Homo sapiens: one gene and its partner. The protein of the gene in region 1 interacts with the protein of each later gene in a pairwise test. Each region holds a gene or a part of one and is shown in the gene's direction. Other genes may lie near its edges.

Evidence for each region.
Region 2: the proteins of CC2D1B (region 1) and KLHL40 interact in a two-hybrid assay, tested with the Homo sapiens proteins (one large-scale study listed by BioGRID).

What each region holds. Positions count from the first base shown.
Region 1 is NC_000001.11:52,352,851-52,356,220, reverse strand, and holds part of CC2D1B (coiled-coil and C2 domain-containing protein 1B), read left to right. Parts: coding exon 1-35; intron 36-376; coding exon 377-450; intron 451-554; coding exon 555-613; intron 614-771; coding exon 772-823; intron 824-1,281; coding exon 1,282-1,381; intron 1,382-1,522; coding exon 1,523-1,613; intron 1,614-2,573; coding exon 2,574-2,702; 3' UTR 2,703-2,703; exon of another isoform or gene 2,704-2,997; 3' UTR 2,998-3,370. UniProt on the Homo sapiens protein: Transcription factor that binds specifically to the DRE (dual repressor element) and represses HTR1A gene transcription in neuronal cells.
Region 2 is NC_000003.12:42,690,482-42,693,051, forward strand, and holds the end of KLHL40 (kelch-like protein 40), read left to right. Parts: intron 1-377; coding exon 378-524; intron 525-1,400; coding exon 1,401-1,512; 3' UTR 1,513-2,063; downstream 2,064-2,570. Other genes in the region: HHATL (protein-cysteine N-palmitoyltransferase HHAT-like protein), read right to left, coding at 2,270-2,394. UniProt on the Homo sapiens protein: Substrate-specific adapter of a BCR (BTB-CUL3-RBX1) E3 ubiquitin ligase complex that acts as a key regulator of skeletal muscle development.

The sequences.
Region 1 (3,370 bases):
CACCACTTTGAGTTGAAGACATTCCAGACTGTGAGGTACCAAGGCCTAGGGAAACAGGGGCTCCAGGCAGGGAGGGGCAGGAGGCTGGGAGCCCAGGCCAGAGACTGCTACCCCTTTAGTGAGGCTTCCCAAGCCTGGCCCCGCTGTGGGCACTGGGGCTGCTGAGGACGACAGGGTGCATGCTAGTGGAGAGCGCACAGCTGTCTGGGTGCTGTGGAAAGAGCTCTGGACCAGAAGTCAGAGATCAAGGTCTGCATACCAGCTCTGCCTTCCCTCCCGTCACCACCCAGCTGGGCAGACAGGCCCTGGACGAAGGGACCTTGTTCCACTACTGTCCTTCACTTTTGAGCATTTTCTCCTTCCCGCTTGGCTCTAGGATCTTCTCAGAACTCAACAGCACAGAAATGCATCTGATCATTGTCCGGGGAATGAACCTCCCAGCCCCTCCAGGTAACCCTAGGGCCGCCCCTACTCCAGGAGGCTCTTGCCCGGACACTCCAAGTGCTAGGCTCCTGGCCACTCCCTCTGACTTGACTCCCTTTTCTCCTTCCCAGGGGTGACTCCCGATGACCTGGATGCTTTTGTGCGGTTTGAGTTTCACTACCCTAACTCGGTGAGGTTCAGGTAGAAGTAGGATCCTCTGAAACCCGCCTTGCATTCCAGGACCCTGTGCTCACTTTCTTCCCATCCCTGGGAGGTGTGGCTGCAGTGCCTGCCCTGTGTGCCTCTTTGTTTATACGCTGTCCTGACTTCTCCCTCCTCACTGCTTAGGACCAGGCTCAAAAAAGCAAAACAGCTGTGGTGAAGAACACAAACTCTCCAGGTGAGGGCCACACGTGGGCCTCTTTCTCCTCCCTCAGAGTGTGTGGGCAGCACTGGTGTTTCCAGAGTGGGTTCCCATCTATGCCCTTACTTGATCCACCCCACTTGGGAGATAAAGGTGCTGTTAACATGCTTCTTCTGTAGTTGGAGAAACACGCAGAGAGGTACAGGGACTTGCCTGGGGCCTCATGGCAAGGAAGTGGTAGAAATGGGATATGAACACAGGAATTCTGTATCCCAATTCCAAGTCTTTCCTACTTTGTTACAATCTATGACTAAAAAGAGTACAAAAACTCACTTCCAAGGCCAGGACCGCGATGCTCTACCACCCTTTGGAGGCAGTACCCCAAAATGCAGGTGGAGAGATTGGGGGAAGGCAGCCAGCCCTGGGCCTCCATTTCCACTTCCTCAGGAAATCCCGAGAGCCAAGCCCCTCCTTGCTTTCTCCCCCTTTGCCAGAATTTGATCAACTCTTCAAACTAAACATCAACCGAAACCACCGGGGCTTCAAGAGGGTGATCCAGAGCAAAGGCATCAAGTTTGAGATCTTCCACAAAGGGTGAGGCTCCTATCGGTCATGCTGCCACACGGGCCGGGAGGAGGGAAGAGCGTTTGTCACTGCTGCCCCTGCATGGGCTCAGCCAGCACATTCCTGCCTTCCCTGCCCAGTCCAATCCTCTGCTGCCTCTTGACTCCCCAGGTCCTTCTTCAGAAGCGACAAGCTGGTTGGCACAGCACACCTGAAACTGGAGCGGCTGGAGAATGAGTGTGAGATCAGAGAAATTGTGGAGGTAGGGGCTGGGGTGTGGGCAAGCCAAAGGGGTTGGTACGACAAGAGCCAATACGCACTGAATGCCACACCTTGTTGTAGGTTTTCGTGCTCATTACTTAATTTGAAATTCTCCACAAGTGTGCTTAGAGTAGGTGGAATCCTCATTTCACAGATGGAGAGGTTCAGAAGGTCTGAGAAATCTCACAGAGGGACCCAGGAGAAGGCAGCCTCCTTGTTTCCATGAACTCAATGGATTCCACAGGCAAGGACTATACGACCTTGCCTCTGACAAATGAGGAAACTCAGGTCCGAGAGGAAAGGGGGTTCTGTAAGCTCATATGGTGTGTCCTTGGCAGAGCTACGACCAGCTCCTTACTGATAACCTATGTAGGCTGGGGCTCTTCCCACTGTAGCACACCTGGCCCTACTGCCTGCCTGGGGAAGTTGTTCTTATGCGGGCCCTGGTCTCTATTGGAGCCACTGAGGGTGGTTGGACTTCTTGGGCCTATTGTACTGCTTTGTGCCCTAATTGACTGCCTCATCTTCTGCCCAAAAGAGGGAGTAGCGTGGTGAATGGGAAGGAACCCTGGGTTTGGGGTTCCAGTGCTGACTCTGCCACATAGAGTCATCTGCTTCTCTCTCTTGGCCATCTGTGAAGTGAGGGTTTGGGTCAGTGGAAGGCTGCTTCTTCAAGCCAATGTTTCTTCCAGAAGTTGCCGTGGGGATTGAGGAGAAAATGAACAGAGCTCTAGGATGCTTGTCTGGATTTATTTATTACTTTTTTAATAAGACTCACCTAAAACCACCACCACCTCCTCCTCCAAATACTGGGAGGGTAGGGTTTTCATGAATGGAGATTCCTGTGTTCATGCCACAGGACATCTTAGCTCCTCTCACTTCTTTCCTGGGAATGTAGGGACCTGCCTGCTCCCCATCTCTGTCCCCTTAGTTACCATTTCCCTCTCTGTGGTCCTCACAGGTCCTGGATGGAAGGAAGCCCACCGGGGGGAAGCTGGAGGTGAAGGTGAGGCTGCGGGAGCCTCTGAGTGGCCAGGATGTGCAGATGGTCACTGAGAACTGGCTGGTTCTGGAGCCCAGGGGCTTGTGAGGTGGGCAGCTCTCTGGGCCTTCAGAACCTTTGCCCCCTCCTTTTACTCAACTAACTACTCAACTCATATCTGGAGAGAAAACCTAGGAGTTTCTCATCTATGAGAAAGACCTACCATGCTGGGTAGGGCTTATGGGCTGAGTTTCTGATGTTCCTCAGTAGAACTGGGAAGAGAAGGTAACCTTCCAAGGTTTAACTATCTATCTATCTATCTATCTTCAGGAAACCCTTTCTAAAATCTTTGTGTTTTCACTGCAGTTTAGACTGACTTCTTGTGCTTTGCACCCCTGTGTAGCCGATGGCCAGCACCAGGAGAGGAGTCAGGCCGCGACTGTGCAGGAGATGACTTTCCCAGCTTTGCTGGCTTCAGAAGCCTTTGTACATAAGAGATGCTGCTACCCAAGCACCAAAGACCTGTTAAGCATGTGCACTACTGACCACGACTCTGGTCTTTCCTGTTGTTGGCCCCTCTGGGGCTCTACAGAAACAGGCTGGGTTCCAGGAGCCCATCTCCCCGCTGTCTCCCCCTGCCCCGAGTCTGGAAGAGGGCAAGGACACTTCCATTCCTCTGTACCATGGAGTCCTGCAGCCCCTTAACCCCTGCGTGGCAACTGTGTACAGCTTACCCCTGCCTCCAGTTGCACCACTTCTAGATGTGCCTTTAAAAG
Region 2 (2,570 bases), on another chromosome or scaffold:
TGGGGCTGCAGGGGCCGCTGAGGGGCAAAAGGACTGCGTCCAGGGCAAGGCTGGGGGCCTGCTAGGGGCTGGGGTTGTGAGTTGGAGGGTGGAGTTAGTTCAGGAGAGGAGTAGGGGCAGTGGGGAGATCCATGGTGGACTTTGCTGGACAGGTTGGATAGAATGGCAAGAGGACAAGGAAAGGAAAGTGGAGGAGCAAGAGAATGGGGAAGGAAGGGAAGACCAGAGGGACAGGGAAGGGGAATGGGGTTGGGGGCATGGGTGCCTGGGACTTGGATTGCAAAGGGTTGCAGTTGGAGCTGTGGGTGCTGGGTGGCAGGGACAGTCACTGGGCTTGCCGAGGCATCCCAATGATGCACCTTCTCACACACCCCCAGGTGGGCACCCTTCGAGGCCTTCCCACAGGAGCGTAGCTCACTCAGCCTGGTCAGCCTGGTGGGTACCCTCTATGCCATTGGTGGCTTTGCCACACTGGAGACGGAGTCTGGAGAGCTGGTTCCCACAGAGCTCAATGACATCTGGAGGTGAGTCCCACCCTGGGGAGGCAAGGGGGCATCATGAGCAAGGCTGACACCCCATAGCACCATGGTGGGGTACCAAGGCACTGGGCAAGCTCCTCTGGGGGCAAAGCGGATCCCTCTTCTAGGGAGTCCTGTAGGGAGGAATAGCCAACATACCCTGCTTGGCCGTTTCTCACCAGTTTGTTGGGAAAGTCTGGGCTTGCACAGATGACACCATGCCCCACTGTGGAGCAGCAACAGTGTTGCAGATGGGAGCAGACCCAAGCTTAGGTCATAGACTCACAGAAACAGGGCCCAAATAGCAGCCGGATTTTCTTCTCTCCTGCCTTCCGGGTGCTTGGTCTGGAGGGAGGGCTGCCACTAGGGCTGGGAAACAGTTGGAGCCCTGGCCTTTCAGAACCATTGCTCTCTATGGCTGGTCCTTTGTGGGGGTGGGAGAAGGAAACTTTAGCCTCTGGGGCATCTCCTTCCTGAACCTGCAGCCATCTGCACTGCTGCAGGCAGCCCCTGGGGAGCAGTGCTGCCGGAGGCTGAGACGTGAGACTTAGTAGAAATGGAGCATGGAAATTCTCAAGGAGAGGACATTGATGGGGTGGTGTGGGCAGTGTAGACCTTCCTGGAGGGGAACTTTGAGGAATATGGGAACACCCCTTGAGAGGTGATCTTTCCTGGGGAGAAAGACCCTTCCTGGAGTGTGGGGTGGGTGTTCCTTGGGGTGGGTCTTGTGGGGGGTCTCCTTTCCCAGAGCCTGGGGATTTTCAGGAGCAGATCTCCCTAGAGATGGGCCAAGTGCCCTCAGCCACCCCTCTCTGCTGCGTTCCACTCTGGACTCAGCTGACCAAGCTCTCCATCCTTGTCCCCACTCTCTCTCATCCCCAGGTATAACGAGGAGGAGAAGAAATGGGAGGGTGTCCTGCGGGAGATCGCCTATGCAGCAGGTGCCACCTTCCTACCAGTGCGGCTCAATGTGCTGTGCCTGACTAAGATGTGACCAGCTCAGGCAGACTGAACTAAGCACCCCTCCCATCCTGCGACCCTCACTGGCCTGGCCTTGTGGGGGCTCCAGAAAAGAGGCTAGGAGAGGCCAGAGTCTACCTGGATCCAGTTATGGTGCCTCAGGGGCTGCGTCAGCCAAGGAAAGGGAAGTGCTGCTTAGTCCTGGACTTTTGGGCAAGGGTGAGAAACTAGAGGCTTCTCCAGTGTTGCCATATCCCCCTAGGTTGTCTTGATCCATGAACCAGAACCACAGGGCGGTATCCCAGGCCGTGTGCTGGCCCTGCCCCAGCCTAGCTGAGTGTGCTGGCAAAGTTCCCCACAGGACTCAGCCTTCTCGTCTGTCCGATGGGAGCATCCCCATCAAGTGCAGTGTACAGTGCAGATATGTCTCCTTCTTTAGGAAGAATAAAGTGCCTTCTGAGCAAGCAGCTCAGGGTCTGCATCAGTGCTCCAAGAGTCAGTGAGCAGGTGTGTTGAAGACTTGGGGCTTCAGTGTTCTGCTGTTGGGCTGCCAAGGTCGATGGTCTCTGCTCTCCATCTGGTGTCCCCTCCACCCTATGGGTGGGAACCCTCCCCTGCCTGAGGCCTAGAGCCTCCAGCTCCTCAGCCACTATGGACGTGGAGCCAGGGGACTGTGGGAAGAAGGGTCAGGGAACAGCCAAGCTGTTGTAGAAAAGTCTTTTATTCTATCGGTCAGGCCCCATCTGGCCCAAGAATAGCTGAGCAGAGCCCATCCCTCTACCCGCTCCCTCCTACTCCGGCTTCTCTTTGTCCTGCTTCTGCTCCTCCTCCAGTGCCAAGGTTCGCTCACGCTCCTTTACCAGCTGGACGCCACAGTAGGTGACAAACAGGATGGACAGCGTGGTCTGGGGGAACCCTGTGTGGGGAGGGAGTCATAGATGCTCAGGAGCAGCACTGCATCCTCAGCGACTTTTGTCTTCCCACCCCTCTCCCCGCTTGATGGGCCCTCCCTTCTGAGTCCCAGGGGTGATGAGGGAGATAGGAGGCATTTTGGAAGGTCACGGTCCTTGAGGCTGATGCCTGGCACCTTCT